4 linked regions of the Homo sapiens genome follow. The protein of the gene in region 2 interacts with the protein of the main gene of each other region in a biochemical or structural test. Each region holds a gene or a part of one and is shown on either strand. Other genes may lie near its edges.

Region 1 (3,594 bases), on a different chromosome or scaffold from region 2:
TCACAAACAGCTCAGAAAGGCAGGGGAACTGTTCTAGATTAAAGGAGACTGAAAAGGCACGCCAAGGACAGGAACCTGAGGTCCCAGATTGGATGCTGGTAGACGGGGGGGTTTGGGGGTATTTTTGTTGTCTTTCTGTTGCCCAGGCTGGTCTTGGAACTCCCGGGCTTAAGCCATCTACCCACTTTGGCCTCCCAAAGTGTTGGGATTACAGGCGTGAGCCACAGCACCTGGCCTAGAAGGGGTTTTAAAGGACAAGTCCCCTGATGACCTAGTGGCTAGGAAAAAAAAACTACAAAAAAGGCCACGTGTGGACACGCAGTGAAACGTGGTCTGGAGAGCAGATGGCATGACTGTATCAAAGACAAACCGGGTGTCATCATGGTCGCCTCTACCGTTAGCAAGGCTAAGGGACAGAATGGGCCCACAGCCACAGGCAGAATCTGAAGGAGTCCTCAGAAGGCAGAAAGAACCATGGACCCGACACTTCTCAGCCTTTCGGCTAAGATCAAGTGTAGAACCACAGACCCTGCGGTGCGGCCCCGCCCCCGCTGACTCACTTCTCCTCCGAGGCGGCCTGGCGCTCCATGCGGAGCGCGGCCTCCACGCTCTGGCCCTGCATGCGCAGCTGGTCCACCTGCACGCTGTGCTGCTGCTGCAGCGCCTCGCGCTCACTCTCCAGCTGCCGCGCCTGCTCGCTGGCCGCCCGGGCCCTGGCACGGGGAAAGAGCAGACTCAGGGAGGACGAACGGGGGGACGGCAGGGGCTATGCGCAGGGCGTGGGCGGGGGGTGGGGGTCGGCTCTGAACACCCTGTGACTGCGAGCTGATGCCAGGCGGCAGGGTGGAGGCACCGTCAACAGACACGAGGACAACTGCAGGGGGCCAGGTGGGAGCAGCAGGTGAGGAGCTTTGCTTAAGACGTGTTTGCTTCAATGCAGGGGCCCAGCAGGTGACCAAGTACAGATGGCAAGGAGACCTGGAAGCCAGGGGAAGGGGGTGGTCCGAGAAAAGGATGGGGTCGCCTGCATCCCGCAGTGCTGGGGCCAGGTGAGAGGAGCCCTCGGAACTGCCCGTGGAGTTCCACTGGGGGACTGCTGGGGGCCCCAGCAAAAGCAGTCTCAGTGGAGGGGGTCAGGAGAGACTGCTGTTCCAAAAATGAGAGACTGCCCACCTGGGCGTGCAAGCACTGAGCTCAATGCAGACCGGGCCTCGGCCCCATCCCTGCTGCTGCCCAGAGCTCTGCTGGAGTCCCAGACGACCTGCTCGGATGCTCAGTTCCCACACCTGCCCCCCTACAGCTCCCTTAACCTCCAGTTTCCAGGGTCTGGCCTCATCCCACCACACCAAGCCCTTCCACAGCCTCACTGCAGGGACAATGGTGGGTGCATCTGTCCAGGTCCTGGGTGGCCTCTGGCCACAGGCAGACACGGCCCTTCTCCAGTCACCCCAACTCTGCCTGGCAGGCCTGGCTGCTTGGCTCTCCCCTCCGCGCCTGCCTGCATACTGCCCCCACACCCTGCACGGGTTCCCTCTGCCCATCAGAGCCTGGGTCAAGCTCCCCTCCCCTCTGCCCTGCTGGCTGCCCCAAGTGCACCTTGACCGCCTACTGTGCTGGGATGGCTGGGGCCCCCCTGGCAGCTGATCCATCTGTCTGGAGGGCAGAAGCAGGACCGAATGAGAACCACAGAAACCTCCCTGCCCTTTGACCCAATGGTCCCACTCACAAGAACCAAGACCCCTTTGCAAAAGAGAGTAACCAGCAGGCCTGAGGCCACCGGCTGGCAAGGTTGGCCCTTGGCTGGTGAAGTTCCCTTGCCACAGTGACACTTTCTCTAGTGGTCAGGTCGGTCCCTGCACCTAGGCCATTTGTAGGAAGAACGTGGTTGACGTGAGCACCCGCTCTGCTGCTGGGAGTCGGGGATTTAGGTACCTGCCTGGCAGAGGGCGCTGACAGGACCTGCCCCCAGTAAACACCCAGGGCGCTGAGTCTCTAGCGGGCATCCCTGGGCAGGAACACGGCCCGTGTGGGAGGCGCTTCTCACTGTGCCGCTCGCAGGGCAGCGGGAGGCTGGGACAGGGCTTCTCCAACTCCCCCCACGGCTCCTGCCCTGGCGGCTCCTGCCCTGTGCCTTTTTCCCTGTCATCAACCTCAGCCACGAGGGCGACTGTGCGCCGGTCCCAGAAGTCCTTCCAGAGAACTAGACACTGTGGGTGTGGGCTCGGGGCCCCCAGAATGCCTCCTAAGGAAATAATCCAAACTCCATCAAAGGGTCACAGAGTGCGGAGAGCCGGCTGGGACCCAGGTCCCGGATGCCTGGCCCAGACCTCTCCCGACGTCTGCCCCGACGTCTTTACGCAGCCTGCCCCGGTCTATCCTCATCAAGGAGCACCCTGGAGGCCCCTAAACCCACCTCATTGCTTTTGGAAACCCTGGAAGGGGTCTCCGGAGCCGGCTCCCCCGACTCACCGACCCTCCAGAGCCTGGCATTCCTTAGTGGCAGCCTCCAAGCGACTCTGGCTCTCCTGCAGCTCCCCGAGCAAGGACGTCACCTGGGCTTTCACAGAGGCCTTGTCCTCAGCCATCTGCTGCAGGATAAAAAGCCACTTCCTGTCAGCACTGCTTTCTCCCCAGCGGCCCACTCCTGCCATCCGCAAGCCCGGGGCAACCCGCAAGCGGCTGAGGCCTGCGCGCCATGAGGCCTTTTTTCCTGCCCTCGGCACCCCCAAACCTGGGTGCCCTAGGGCCTCATGAGCCCAAGGGCCACCCAACCCTCCCCAGCTGCCCACCTTAACCCTCTGCCACAGGGTGACACACAGATGGGGCAAAAAGAGATCCCCAAAGAGACGAAGGAGCACAAAGCTGCCTTGAGGTTGTCAACGGCTTAGTCACTGCCCCGGCAAGCAGGCCTCGAGGGCTGAACCCGGTGGCCTTGCAGCTACAGCCCCAGCAGGGGATCTCTCTCCGTCTCTCTGAGACTTGGGACAAAAGGAGGCCAGACACGAATAGGGCAAAGTAAACACAGGCCCCAGTCCACACCCGGGGCCGCCAGGATGGGAGAGTTTGTGCAGATCAAGAGTGGACACTGAATTTTGTTAAACACTGGGAACTGCAGAACCTCTCGGCAGGCACACTGCACTCAAACCCCTGCCCGAAGACACCCGGCCACCACCTCGCGGGGCCTCTGGGAGCCTAAGGCCGCGCCCCTGGGACGCCCCAGCCCCCTTTTGAGTGAGTTCCCGTCTGGAAACGCTCAGGGCTGCCCAGAGCATGTACTGTCTGTTCCGGCCAACACCTGACCTCCCTTTCTGACAGCATTTACTACAAAGGGCTTACCCTGTCCCTTTGAGACATCTGTGTAGCACCCACAACCCAGGGGCTTTCCCGAGGGCCCCGCAGCCACTCCTTGGAAACGGAAACCTCAGGAGGCGCGGGGCCCAGTCTCCCAGTCTCCACGGGACGGAAGCATCCCAACCTTGGTAAGCACCGGCAGCTCCCACACACGGCTGGCCTCGCGGCAAGGACGCTGGCTGCCCCGTCATCTTTCACCTGAGCCTGCACTCGCCCCCTCCCGACTCCCTCCTTCTCCCTTCG
Region 2 (4,960 bases):
GGCTTTTTGTATTTTTTTGTACAGACGGGGTTTCACCATGTTGCCCAGGCTGGTCTTGAACTGCTGGACTTAAGTTGTCCATCGCCTTGGCCCCCCAAGTGCTGGGATTACAGGCATGAGCCACTGTGCCTGACCCAAAAAGATATTTTGAAGTCCTAACCCCTACTACCTCAGAGTATGGCCTTATTTGGAAACAGGGTCTTTATAGAGGTAATCAAGTTAAAATTAGGTCATTAGGGTGGGCCTAATCCAGTAACTGGTCTCCTTATAAAAAGGGGAGCACACACACTTGTGTCAATAGACACACAAAAAGCACCACGTGCTGATGGAAGCAGAGATCGGATTTATGCTGCCACAAACCAAGGGATGCTATCAGAAGTTGGAAGAGGCAGCTGGACACAACGCCATGGAGCACATGTAGTCCCAGCTACTTGGGAGGCTGAGGTGGGAGCCCAGAAGTATGAGGCCAACCTGGGCAACATAGTGAGACCCAATTTCTAATATATAAAAATAAGTTGGAAGAGGCAAGGAAAGATTCCCTTATGGGTGTCAGAAGGAGCATGGTCCTGCCCACACCTTGATTTCTGACTTCTAGCCTCCGTAACTGTGAGACAATAAATTTTTTATTATAAGCCACCTAATGTGTGGTACTTTGTTACAATAGCCCCTATTGTTGGACATTTAGAGTTTTAAGTTTGGGCTTTTATAGATACAACTTAAAACATTCACAATCTATTTCCACAGGTTAATTCCTAGGTATAAATTGGTGGGTCAGAGGATATACAAGGTTCTGAAATTTAAGACAGGGTCTCGTTCTGTCATGAAGACTGCAGTGCAGTGGTGCAATCTCAGCTCACTGCAACCTCTGTCTCCCAGGCTGAAGCGACCCACCCACCTCAGCCTCCTGGGTAGCTGGGACCACAGGCATGCACCACCACACGTGGCTGATTTTTGTATTATTTGTAGAAACAGGGTTTTACCATGTTGCCCAGGCTGGTCTCAAACTCCTGAGTTCAAGTGGTCCACCCACCTCGGCCTCCCAAAGTGCTGGGATCACCATGCCCGGCCAATTCTGAGGTTTCTGATTCTGATTCTGAGGTTTCAATTCTGAGGTTGTGTTAAGTTGCCCTCTATACCAAAGTATTAAATTATCTCCGCCAGGCGCAGTGGCTCACGCCTGTAATCCCAGCACTTTGGGAGGCCGAGGCGGATGGATCACGAGGTCAGGAGATCAAGACCATCCTGGCTAATATGGTGAAACCCTGTCTCCACTAAAAATACAAATAAAATTAGCTGGGCATGGTGGCAGGTGCCTGTAGTCCCAGCTACTCAGGATACCGAGGCAGGAGAATGGCCTGAACGCGGGAGGCAGAGCTTGCAGTGAGCCGAGATCATGCCACTGCACTCCAGCCTGGGCGACAGAGCAAGACTCTGTCTCAAAATAAATAAATAAATAAATAAATAATCTCCAGCACCATGTGAGAGACCATTCCTTATACTCAGTAGGTTTGATAGTAGGGTTTGTGTTTGTTTTTAATCATTAGTTCTGATTTAGGTAATCAAGATGTCCAGCCAAAGATATACTACAAGTTGGGTGGAACATTATAGACTTAGATACTGGAAAGATTTGGTTTAGTTTCATTGTTTTTAGATTTGTCTGCGCTTGGTTTCCTAGAGAGTGCTCAACTCAAGCAAGGAGGGAATAACTGTAAATAAAATGTGTCCAAGAATAGATTTGGAAAAACCAATCACAGTGGAAATAAATATTAGCTTTATTAACACTCAAAGTGCCATTCATTTATATTCATTCCATAGTCCAGAAGGTTACTTATTAGAGTAAGCCTTTGCACCACAATCTTTCAAAAAAATGAACATGTAAGAAAAAGCAGTTTTCATTGTGCTAATTATTGCAGGCCTTCATGCACGTAAACCTCAACAAAATGTGTGCCAACAATATACAAATTTCCATATAAACAAAGTCATTGATCACTAACAAAATATAAACATGGTTTCTTTTATATTAGATTTTTTTTTAAAAAAAAGCTATTTACCAGCAAGAAAAAACAAGTACCTAGAAATTATAAAACTCAGAAATTGTATACATTTTTACAAGCACAATTTTGAATGACAAACAAAATCAAAATGTGCATGAAATGTTGCACGTACCACACTGTATCTGGCTTCTGGTAGGTTTTCCTAATCACACTGGTTCCTTTTAACATAATAAGCTTAGTGACATTCAACTTCAACAGTGGACTTTATTCCTAACACGAGTAATTTTACATGGTACCGCATATTTAAAACAAAGTTTTCTTTAATACTACATTGTCTGATTGGAAATTTCATTTCCAATTCTTTTTCTGCCAGTTACTTAAAACACACAGTACAATATAAAGACACACAACGTATGTTTGGACATTTCAAAACCAATTTATAGTCAATTACAAAGAATCACAATATGCCAATATATTGTTTTATAAACCCAGTCTGACCTTGCCCAGTGATAGAAAAACTAAAAGTTGAAATCTTTTGGGGTGGAATACAGGAAATATTCAAAGACAACAGTAGGACAGGCCAATAGCAACTGGAGATAGAAAAATCTTGACATCTCGAGACAATTTAGTTTCTCACATTTTTCCATAGCTCTGAGAATTCAAAGGCCATTTTTAGCGGTGTGTTTTTGCTACTGCTTAAAACCTATTTTTCCCTTAATTTGCATTTCACGGAATTCTCAAAGAGAATTTAATGCTTTTTCTTGCAAGAGTATTTTAATTGAGCTCTAAGTATGACTTGCATTCAATTCTGAAAATACAAATACATTTTGAATGGCTAAAAACAAAATTTTAAAAATACTTTTGATCAGCCAGCTGAAAATATATTCATATAGTAAATAATCTCTCAGAAAGCTTTTATATATATTTAATTATCACAACTAAACAGTACCCTTATAAAACAAGTTCATAAAAATGTAGAAATGAAATGAAAATAAGAACTTACTGGGATATATACATGTGCCTACAGACAGAAAAAAACATCTCCACACAAACATACATCCCCTGATACACAGTTAAAAGCATACTTTCAACTTAGTAATGGATTTTATAATACATTATAAAATTTTCTAATTTCTATTAATGTCGAACTCCTGAGTTCTTCAACAAAGAACCATAGATAAGTATAGTTTGTAAAAGCAAAAAGGTCCATTTAAGTCAGTAATAGCAGTGCAGTAACTGATGGCTACATCTTGAAAGAAGTTAAAACATAAAGACACAGACAGTAGTTCAATGCACGCATTCATGATGCTCATACACTCATCAACAATTATTGGTCAGAGTAGTAAATCAGTGTACAAATTAAACATTTCCAAAAATGTGCAAAAATGTCAATCTTAATAGGAAAAAAACCCTTTGTACATAATTATAAACTGCCCAGCATTCAACTGAGATTAAAAACATTTAGAGAGAAACCAATAGGTTAAATATAGAGAATTTAATGGCTACATTTAAAAATGTACATTATTATGTCAAAGGGTAAATTTACAAATTGATAATCATAGTTTGCAACAATTCAAAGTTTATTCTCAAATTTATCCAAGTTTACTTTTATTTACAATGAATAAAAAGAACCATGTGAAATGTAAGAGATGTCAGACATTAAAAGTATTTTTGGTATTAACTCTTATAATATTTCAGAATTCAGGGTAGCAAATTTTAAAACCAATAACAATAGAAAAAATGTAAACCATTTACTAATTAAGATTGCATTAAAACAATTGTTGGTCTTTAAAGAAGTATTCTTATCCTTAGACACTGTACTTTCAATTGAATAGGGTGTATTGCAAGAATTTGGCCCACTTCATATTGCCCATAAGCCTCTCCAGCTCAAATGTTTCAACTAGTCCTCTCTTCTTATTCCAGGTGGAAAAAATTCTTTGGAAAAGTAAGAATACATCAAATCCATTTTGTAGTCTATCTAATAGAGTTTAAGGTGTAATTTTGTTTCTTCTCCCCTCCAAGTAAAGCTAATGCTAAAATCATCACTAGTTACATATGCTTTTAAAAAATAAATTCTAAAAAAATATTTAAAAAGAAGTGAACTTAAAAGTGCTTTTCGGTATGGTCATGAACTTTACTGTTCTCAACTGCATTAAGGGATTCTCAACTGCATTAAGGGATTCAGAAATTATTTGGGGACAAGTCCTGTACATATAGTAGAAGCAGATACTTCCTTATGTTCCAAAATGTCTATGGCACAAAGCAGACATCAGTCCAGAACCTACTTTTCCTCACAGCTTTGCTGAAATGCCCCTCAAGTCAAACATAAGTTCATAAATGTTAAGACACTAGGAAGAAAGTTCGCCATCAACCTGAGGCATCAGACGTTAATGTCTGTCTATGTGAATCAGTGGTCAAGTGACATTAACAAGATTGGCACATGTACAAGCTTAAATTCATGTCTACATAGTTCCTCAATAGTGGAAGTAACTTCTGGATGTCTAAATGCACTGATCACCTGTCCTTTTCCTTGAAGGATATACCAGAATACAAATTCTACTAGTATCTGCTTTATAATTTTTATACTATTAGCTTACAAGTGGACAGAAGTAACAGTGCTAATTATTTTGGCTATGTGTACAGGGAATATAAAAGCTTTGGTTTAAAGTGATTCTGATAATACAGATTGTGTTACAAACAAGAAGTCATCAGGCAGAAGGAACAATGGTACTGATTTAATGCCTTTGCTGTTATTAACAAAAATACCATATGACTATCAATTAAAATGCACAATTATGAAAAATAAGAATTCTATGAGACTGTATACAGGCAACAGATAAAATCTATTCTTTTCTTTACTGTAGCTATGACTCCTCCCTCATCTTTCTGAAGCTCAACCTTGAATGCTTACAGGACCACTGAAAAAAGAATCTCTAGGCTCCCCCAAGAGCTCATTTCCATCAACA
Region 3 (3,594 bases), on a different chromosome or scaffold from region 2:
ATCCTGTGCTTTGGCATAGAACTTGAGGCTGCTTCCTTAGTTTGTCAAAGAACCATATTTTGGAGTATCATTTTCTGAGCCCCAACAAGTTCCTGACATCGTATGTTGGCACATACTGTCTTACTCCTTCTATCAGGGTTTACCTTTGATGCCAATCACACTAGAATTGTATGGACAGATTACCGACAAAGCACAGTTTCAACGTGAGCCTGTCTCAGATGCCATGGCTTAATTTAACTCCTGAAGTACCAATTCCTCAAACCCCAAATCAGAGTTCAGGTAGTACTGAGTTCACATATTTTCACTGACACTCAAGAGATACTTTTAAAATACAGCCCTAAAAAAAACCCAAAAAACAAAAAACAGACCTTTAGGTGCCTCCTTCCTGGTAACAGAAATGTAGAGCTTTTTTTTTTTTTAAGAGACAGAGTCTCGCCATGTTGCCCAGGCTGGTTTCGAACTCCTGGGCTCAAGCAAACCTCCTGCCTCGGCCTCCCAAAGTGTTGGGATTAGAGGCATGAGCCACCATGCCTGGCCGAGTATGACGATTTTTAAATGTCTATACTTAGCATGCTGTGATTTAGCTAGGGAAAAAATGGCACAGATACATGTATTTTATGTATGTAAACAGAGTATCTCTGGAAAAATTAACAAAAAACAAAAAACCTAAGAAACTCATAGTTATTTAGGCCCCATAGGAGAGAACTAGAAAAACAGGGAAAAGATCTTATTTTGAGTGTACTTTCACCTCTGTACATCTATCACTAGTATACCATTTTTCTATTATCTATTCAAAAAAATTTTATATGGAAATTTAAAAATATCTACGCTACTTAACAAAAGACCTTATCTCCAATATCTGAACTTAGTAGATTTAACCACTCTGAAATAAGATAAAGTAAAAATTAATGTTGAGATTAATTATATATATTAGGAACATAAAAACCAACAGTACCTTCTGGAAGAAAGCTGATGGAATTGGTGATTAAAGGGCTTCAAAGCTCTCTACTATGTCCTACTTTCCCCAAAATAAAAAAACATCCATAAGCAGGTAATTTTAAAGCACACTGGCATCTTCTAAACTTGAAGATAACTTTTTGTTTTTGAGACAGAATCTCACTCTGTCACCCAGGCTTGAGTGCGGTGGCACAATCTTGGCTCACCGAACCTCTGCCTCCGAAGCTCAAGTGATTCTTGTGCCTCAGCCTCCTGAGAAGTTGAGATTACAGGTGTGTGCCACCACGCTTGGCTAATTTTTTTATTTTTAGTAGAGATGGGGTTTCGCTAAGTTGGCCAGGCTTGTCTTGAACTGGCCTCAAGTGATCTGCCCACCCTGGCCTCCCAAAGTGCTGGGATTACAGGCATGAGCCACCGCACCTGGCCAAAGGTAACATTTATTTTGTTTTCAATGAAAATTCTTAGATTCGGTAATACCGAAGTATATTTGTCATTTGAGAAATGTCATATTGGTGTATCCCGCCACGTAAGTTATTAATAAAGGATGTTTTCTCCTGAGTGATGTTCTAGAATTTCCCCTTTAGTGAAATCCTCAGAAAAACAGCAATCCACAATTCCATGTACATTAGAGAAAGCATCCTTGCTTCCTTCAATTTTTGCTCAATTGCAATGACCATGACCAAAACAGCTCTTCATGATACAGGTTTCCAAGTCACATCCCTTGTAACTTGATCAAAGGCCATTCACAGTCACAAAACTAAGACAAGGACAGGGCTGGATAGAATGCTTCTGTGTCACTCAGTTTTACAAAGACAACATTCCTCTGTAACTAATAAATGTTAAAATGAAATCTGCCCAACTTTAAGAAAACAAACCCCCAAAAGTGGAAGGCTGGTTTCTAACCTGTGGCCTCACCTGCCGAAGCAGTTCTTGCTGTTTCAGCCGCAGCCTCTCCTTCTCCATCTGCAGTTGCTGCAGTCGCATCTGTTGCTGCTGGTTGGAGTTGCTGCCACCCATGACGCCTCCCTGTGGGCTCTGGGGAGCCAGGGGTGGTGGCTGTTTCACTGGAGCACTCTGACTGATTCTCTGGTTCATGGCTGAAATGAAAAGAAAAAAAAAATCTGTCCTAAAAAACTAGTGAAGGAAGATAAAATGATGATTTAATTATTCAAAAGCAATTTGGGATATTCGATGTAACTTTTTTGGGCAGGAAGACTGGAAATAACCTAAAAATCCATCAATATCACAATGACTACATTAATTTATTATTACTGTTGTCACAAGATACAAGGAAGTCATAAGAGAAAAGAAACAAGACGTAGTTTTAACATGCAATAAGGAACAGTTTCTAAGGACTTACTAAATTAAAAGCAAGGTGCAGAAGAGAAAGTGTTTAAAAAAAACGGGGTGGGGGAAGGGAGCGGGGGTGAATATATTGCATATTCAGAGGATATAAAAATTGATGAATAGCTAAGAAGCAACTAACATCTTTTGGCTCCAGAGATGGGAAACTGGGTGACTAAAGGACAAAGGTGGAGAACCTTATTTATAACTTCTGAAGTGTGAATGATGCAAATTCATTACTTCTTATGAAATATATAAATTAAAAATTCATCCACAAAAATTAAGACAAAGCATTCCAAACAGCAAAGCCCATCAAAATAATCAGCCCTTAATATATCCACATACACATCCCAATAAAGCAAGTAGATTAAAATGATCTGATGCTTGCTCATATCAAATTGAGTCCACAAGTATCTGGATGACATGGATTTGTCTCATTTGACACCATGGTAACCCCCAGCACAAAGCCTAGGTAGTAAAAAAAAAAAAATTTTTTTTTGAAGCTGTAATACACCATTTGGTGGTTAGAAATGGACTGGGTTTTTATACTAGTGAATTTCTGTCACTGATACAACACTGATCAAACTGTGAATTAACCTCAGTGAGCAGAGGGAAGTTTTATGTGAAAATGTTAGTAAGAATAATAAACCTTTTCAGATACATATTCAACTTAAGTTGAAATTTTGGGTCACTGTTTCTACTAAATGTTTAGTACACATTGACTAAAGAAAACCCCAGGTCCCAATGGCTTTGCAGTCATTCAAGGAAGAAATAATACCAGTCTTACACAGCCTCTTCCAGAGCATAACAAGGAAAGAATACTTTCCAACACTTATAAGGCCAGCATAACCTTGATACCATACAAGGATATTAAAAGAAAGGAAAATTACAGGCCAATCTCTCATATAAACCTTGCTACAAAAATCCTAAATAACATACACTGACAGCTCTTATAACTTAATGGTCTCCCAGTCACACAGCAAACTCCTTGTGATTTTTAATGTGTCCCATTATAACAGACTGGCTGCTTGGTAAATGCCATTTCTTCTTGGAGACTACTTGAGCAAAACCTCACAAGGCTGGGCCCATCCTATACATTAAGAATTTTCTTCTCTCAAGGAATTGCCTGGGAACTTTTCCATATTGTCTACTGACATTTATTGCCTGATTCTAATTTTTTACTTACAAATTTATATGCTCCCTCAGACTGAGTGCCACAGGAGTATGGGTCATATCGTAGTCATCTATGTGTCCTCAATACCTAGCACAGCATCTGGCACAAAGTGTGCGCTG
Region 4 (3,594 bases), on a different chromosome or scaffold from region 2:
ATGCCCAGTCTTAAATTTTATTTTATATACCTAAATACAATCTCAATTTGTAACCATAACCATACAGTGCTTTAAAAATATTTTTTAAAATAGGTAACACTCATACATGTTATAAAATTCAAAAGGAGCCTGGGAAACAATACTATACCAAGTCTTTACAAAAATTTTTTAAAAAAATTAGCAGGGGTACAATGGCATGTGCCTGTAGTACCAGCTACTCCAGAGGCTGAGGTGGGAGAATCCCTTGAGCCCAGAAATTTGAGGTTGCAGTGGGCTATGATCATGCTACTGCACTCCAGCCTGGGCGACAGAGTGAGACCCTATCTCAAAAAAACAAAAGGTACAAACAATATATATCCTGCTCATTCTTTGCCTCTCTTCAGAGGCAAGCAAAGTTATTAGTTTCCTGTTTAGTCCTCGAGTAAATTATACACATATTTATGCTCTGCATTTAAATAATTTACATAAATTCTGGTGTAACAAACACACTGTTCTGTACCTTGCTGTTTTTCATTTACCAGCATCTCTTAGGGATTGTTCCATCCAACATATACACTCGAGCCCACCTTGTTCTCTTCAATGGCTGCATAGTATTACACTATATGGTTGCCATGTATTACTTTAAGTAAAAAAAATACCAGGAAGAAGGGGAATGGGATCGTATGTGATTTATCATCAGCAAATCAATATGGTTTATTCTTTTTTTTTTCTTGAGACGGAGTTTCACTCTGTCACCCAAGCTGAAGTGCAATGGTGCAATCTCGGCTCACTGCAACCTCTGCCTCTTGGGTTCAAGCCATTCTTCCAATCTCAGCCTCCCAAGTAGCTGGGATTACAGGTGTGCACCACCACACCGAGCTAATTTTTGTATTTTTAGTAGTGACAAGGTTTCGCCATGTTGCCCAGGCTGGTCTTGAACTCCTGACTTCAACCCATCTATAATCCCAGCCTCCCAAAGTGCTGGGATTACAGGCGTGAGCCACCACGCCTGGCCTAATGTAGTTTAGGTCTTTGACTGACCTGTCCCACTCCCCTGTGAAAAAATGAAATGAATGGAAGACAGAACAGACAAATGGAAGAAAGGAAGGGCAGGAGGCAGGCAGGCGGATTTACTGGCAGATATTCATATTCACGTACAACTATCTACTGTGAAGCTTCTTGAAGAAGATGCTAGAGCAGAGGTTAGCACACATTTCCTGTTAAGATCCAGACAGTAAATACTGGCTGTGGGCCATATGGTTGCTGCTGTAACTACTTTATTCAGATGATGTCGTGTGAAAGCAGAGATGGGCAATACCAAAACAAATGATGTGGCTGTATTCCAATGGTAATTATTCATAACAGGCAGCTGCTGATTTGGCCCACCGGTTGTAGTTTGCTTTCCTCTGCACTAGAATGTAAGTCCCATGAAGGCAGGAGATATTGTTAATTTTATTGACTGATGTATCCTCAGTAACTAGCATATAGTACTCTGCATATATGTGATCAGCTCTCATTAAATATTTACTAACTAAATGAAAGGCAGGGAAACCTCAACTGGAAATGACAAATAGCATCCTCAGAGAATAATCTTTGTCTTCTACTCAATCTCCCTTGATGATACATATTAGACAGCTAGCTATGAAGTTCTCATCGTGGAAGCATATGCTGGGATACTTTATTCTGAACCCTATGGACAACAGTTTTTACAGTGGTGGCTGAAGTGAAAATGTCATCTATCTCCTTGTTTAGTCAAAGTATATCAGTTCTTATTCATATATACCTGTTGGTGACATCTGTGATATAATGTTAAAACTTCAGGCCAGAAGCAGTGGCTCATGCCTGTAATCCCAGCACTTTGGGAGTCTGAGGCAGGTGGATCACTTGAGGCCAGGAGTTCAAGACTAGCCTGGCCAACAGGGTGAAACTCCTCCATCTCTACTAAAAATACAAAAATTAGCTGGGCGTGGTGGTGTGCGCCTGTAATCTCAGCTATTCAGGAGGCTGAGGCATGAGAATCGCCTGAAGCTGGAGACGGAGTTTGCAGTAAGCCGAGATAGCACCACTGCACTCCAGTCTAGGTGACAGAGTGAGATGTCTCAAAACAAACAAACAAACAAGCAAACAAAAAACCAACTTCAGCATAACTGGGAGAGAGAAAAGCAGTCCCTAACATCCAAGAGCTGGCCTGGCACTCATAGGTAAGATCAAGACAAAATCAAGACCACTCTGTAATCGTGGCTGAATATAGACAAAACATGAACATTGTCCAAGCCACAAAATACCAAACATTTCCCCATCCTGGCAAATGTGAGTGACTGTTCTACTTTGCTAATCATAGCTTTAGCCTCACTACAGATAAGATTTGAGATACAAAATCATAGAATTATCCCTGCTTCCCAACAGCATCTCATGTAGAGCAAAGTCCTGCTTCCTAAAACCCTCTTCAAAATCACCTAACAGGAGCCCAAATCCCTGAAGTCTTTTCTAACATTCTGCTACCAAAACACCAATGGTGCGTGTTCTCCCTTGCTGAAATGAATAATAAACCCAACTTGTTCAATGACAAATGTGTCCCTAGTGATTTTTGACTGGAGGGCACTGACATAATGGAAATTTGGATGCCATGACTCTGGTCCATACTACTAATGAGGATATTTGAAAAATGACCATGTTGTAAAGTCCCAAGGTCCCTAATGTATTATTACATATTATTGCATTTAAGACAAAATTTTACATAAAAGTTAGTTGTTGAATAGTATAATATGCATAATATAAACTACTGAAGCCGTAACAAAATCTAAGAGCATCTTACTGAGCTCGATGCTGGCTGGCTCACGGCTGAATTTCCAAAAATGGTGAGTCTGGCATTCAATTCTTCTGCAAGATGAGTTGGAACATCCAAGTTACTTGACGGTGGAGGTGATGGGAAGGCCTGGTTGCTATACATGGTGGCTTCATCTTCTCTTATAATTTCCCAGTTCTAAAATGAACAGAATAAGCTTGAGCCACACATACTTTATTGCTATAGCATGTGTCTTTCAAGGAGAACTAGGAAACTACTTATACCTCGGAAGACTCTCGGTTGTCAACACTTTCTGTTTCCTCGGATATCTGCCGCCTGGTGGTAAATGCACGTTGTGCTTGCAGTTGAATGTTGCCATTCTCAGCATCTGTTAGGTTGTCCCTATATTGGAAGTATAAAAAGCCATCATCCATGTCTTAAGTAGTTAAAATGATTGTCAAAGATTCTGTGATCATTGGGAAAAAAATCTACATTACATCAATAAAAAAATTTATTGTCTTTGACCAAAGGCTATTTCAACATGCAAAGATTCAATCATGGGTAGGCAGACTGGTATATTTAGAGTACCTTACGGAGTTTAAGGTTTTGTGAAAAGGTATAACATGTCTGATTTGATATTTTAGTTTGTCACTATGTCTAGGATAATGTCCAACACATATAGGTACTCAAAAATATTTGTTGAATGAATAAATATCAGAGCGCTTCATAGATTATTTCATTGTATTATTTTGCCATGTTATTATAAGAGTAATAGAGTTACACATACATACATCTTTGTGAATCAGATAGTACATTTTCTAGAATTGGTC

What was found.
Region 1: the proteins of MAP3K2 (region 2) and IKBKG form a complex in vitro, tested with the Homo sapiens proteins (one study listed by BioGRID and IntAct).
Region 3: of the proteins of MAP3K2 (region 2) and YAP1, one has a biochemical effect on the other in vitro, tested with the Homo sapiens proteins (one study listed by BioGRID).
Region 4: the proteins of MAP3K2 (region 2) and NEDD4 form a complex in vitro, tested with the Homo sapiens proteins (2 studies listed by BioGRID and IntAct, with this or other methods).

Annotation. Positions count from the first base shown.
Region 1 is NC_000023.11:154,557,526-154,561,119, reverse strand, and holds part of IKBKG (NF-kappa-B essential modulator), read right to left. Parts: intron 2,589-3,594; coding exon 2,470-2,588; intron 714-2,469; coding exon 561-713; intron 1-560. UniProt on the Homo sapiens protein: Regulatory subunit of the IKK core complex which phosphorylates inhibitors of NF-kappa-B thus leading to the dissociation of the inhibitor/NF-kappa-B complex and ultimately the degradation of the inhibitor.
Region 2 is NC_000002.12:127,296,920-127,301,879, forward strand, and holds the end of MAP3K2 (mitogen-activated protein kinase kinase kinase 2), read right to left. Parts: 3' UTR 1,749-4,960; downstream 1-1,748. UniProt on the Homo sapiens protein: Component of a protein kinase signal transduction cascade. Regulates the JNK and ERK5 pathways by phosphorylating and activating MAP2K5 and MAP2K7. Plays a role in caveolae kiss-and-run dynamics.
Region 3 is NC_000011.10:102,204,353-102,207,946, reverse strand, and holds part of YAP1 (transcriptional coactivator YAP1), read right to left. Parts: intron 2,055-3,594; coding exon 1,873-2,054; coding exon of another isoform or gene 1,861-1,872; intron 1-1,860. UniProt on the Homo sapiens protein: Transcriptional regulator with dual roles as a coactivator and corepressor. Critical downstream regulatory target in the Hippo signaling pathway, crucial for organ size control and tumor suppression by restricting proliferation and promoting apoptosis.
Region 4 is NC_000015.10:55,857,613-55,861,206, forward strand, and holds part of NEDD4 (E3 ubiquitin-protein ligase NEDD4), read right to left. Parts: intron 3,167-3,594; coding exon 3,049-3,166; intron 2,963-3,048; coding exon 2,795-2,962; intron 1-2,794. UniProt on the Homo sapiens protein: E3 ubiquitin-protein ligase which accepts ubiquitin from an E2 ubiquitin-conjugating enzyme in the form of a thioester and then directly transfers the ubiquitin to targeted substrates. Specifically ubiquitinates 'Lys-63' in target proteins.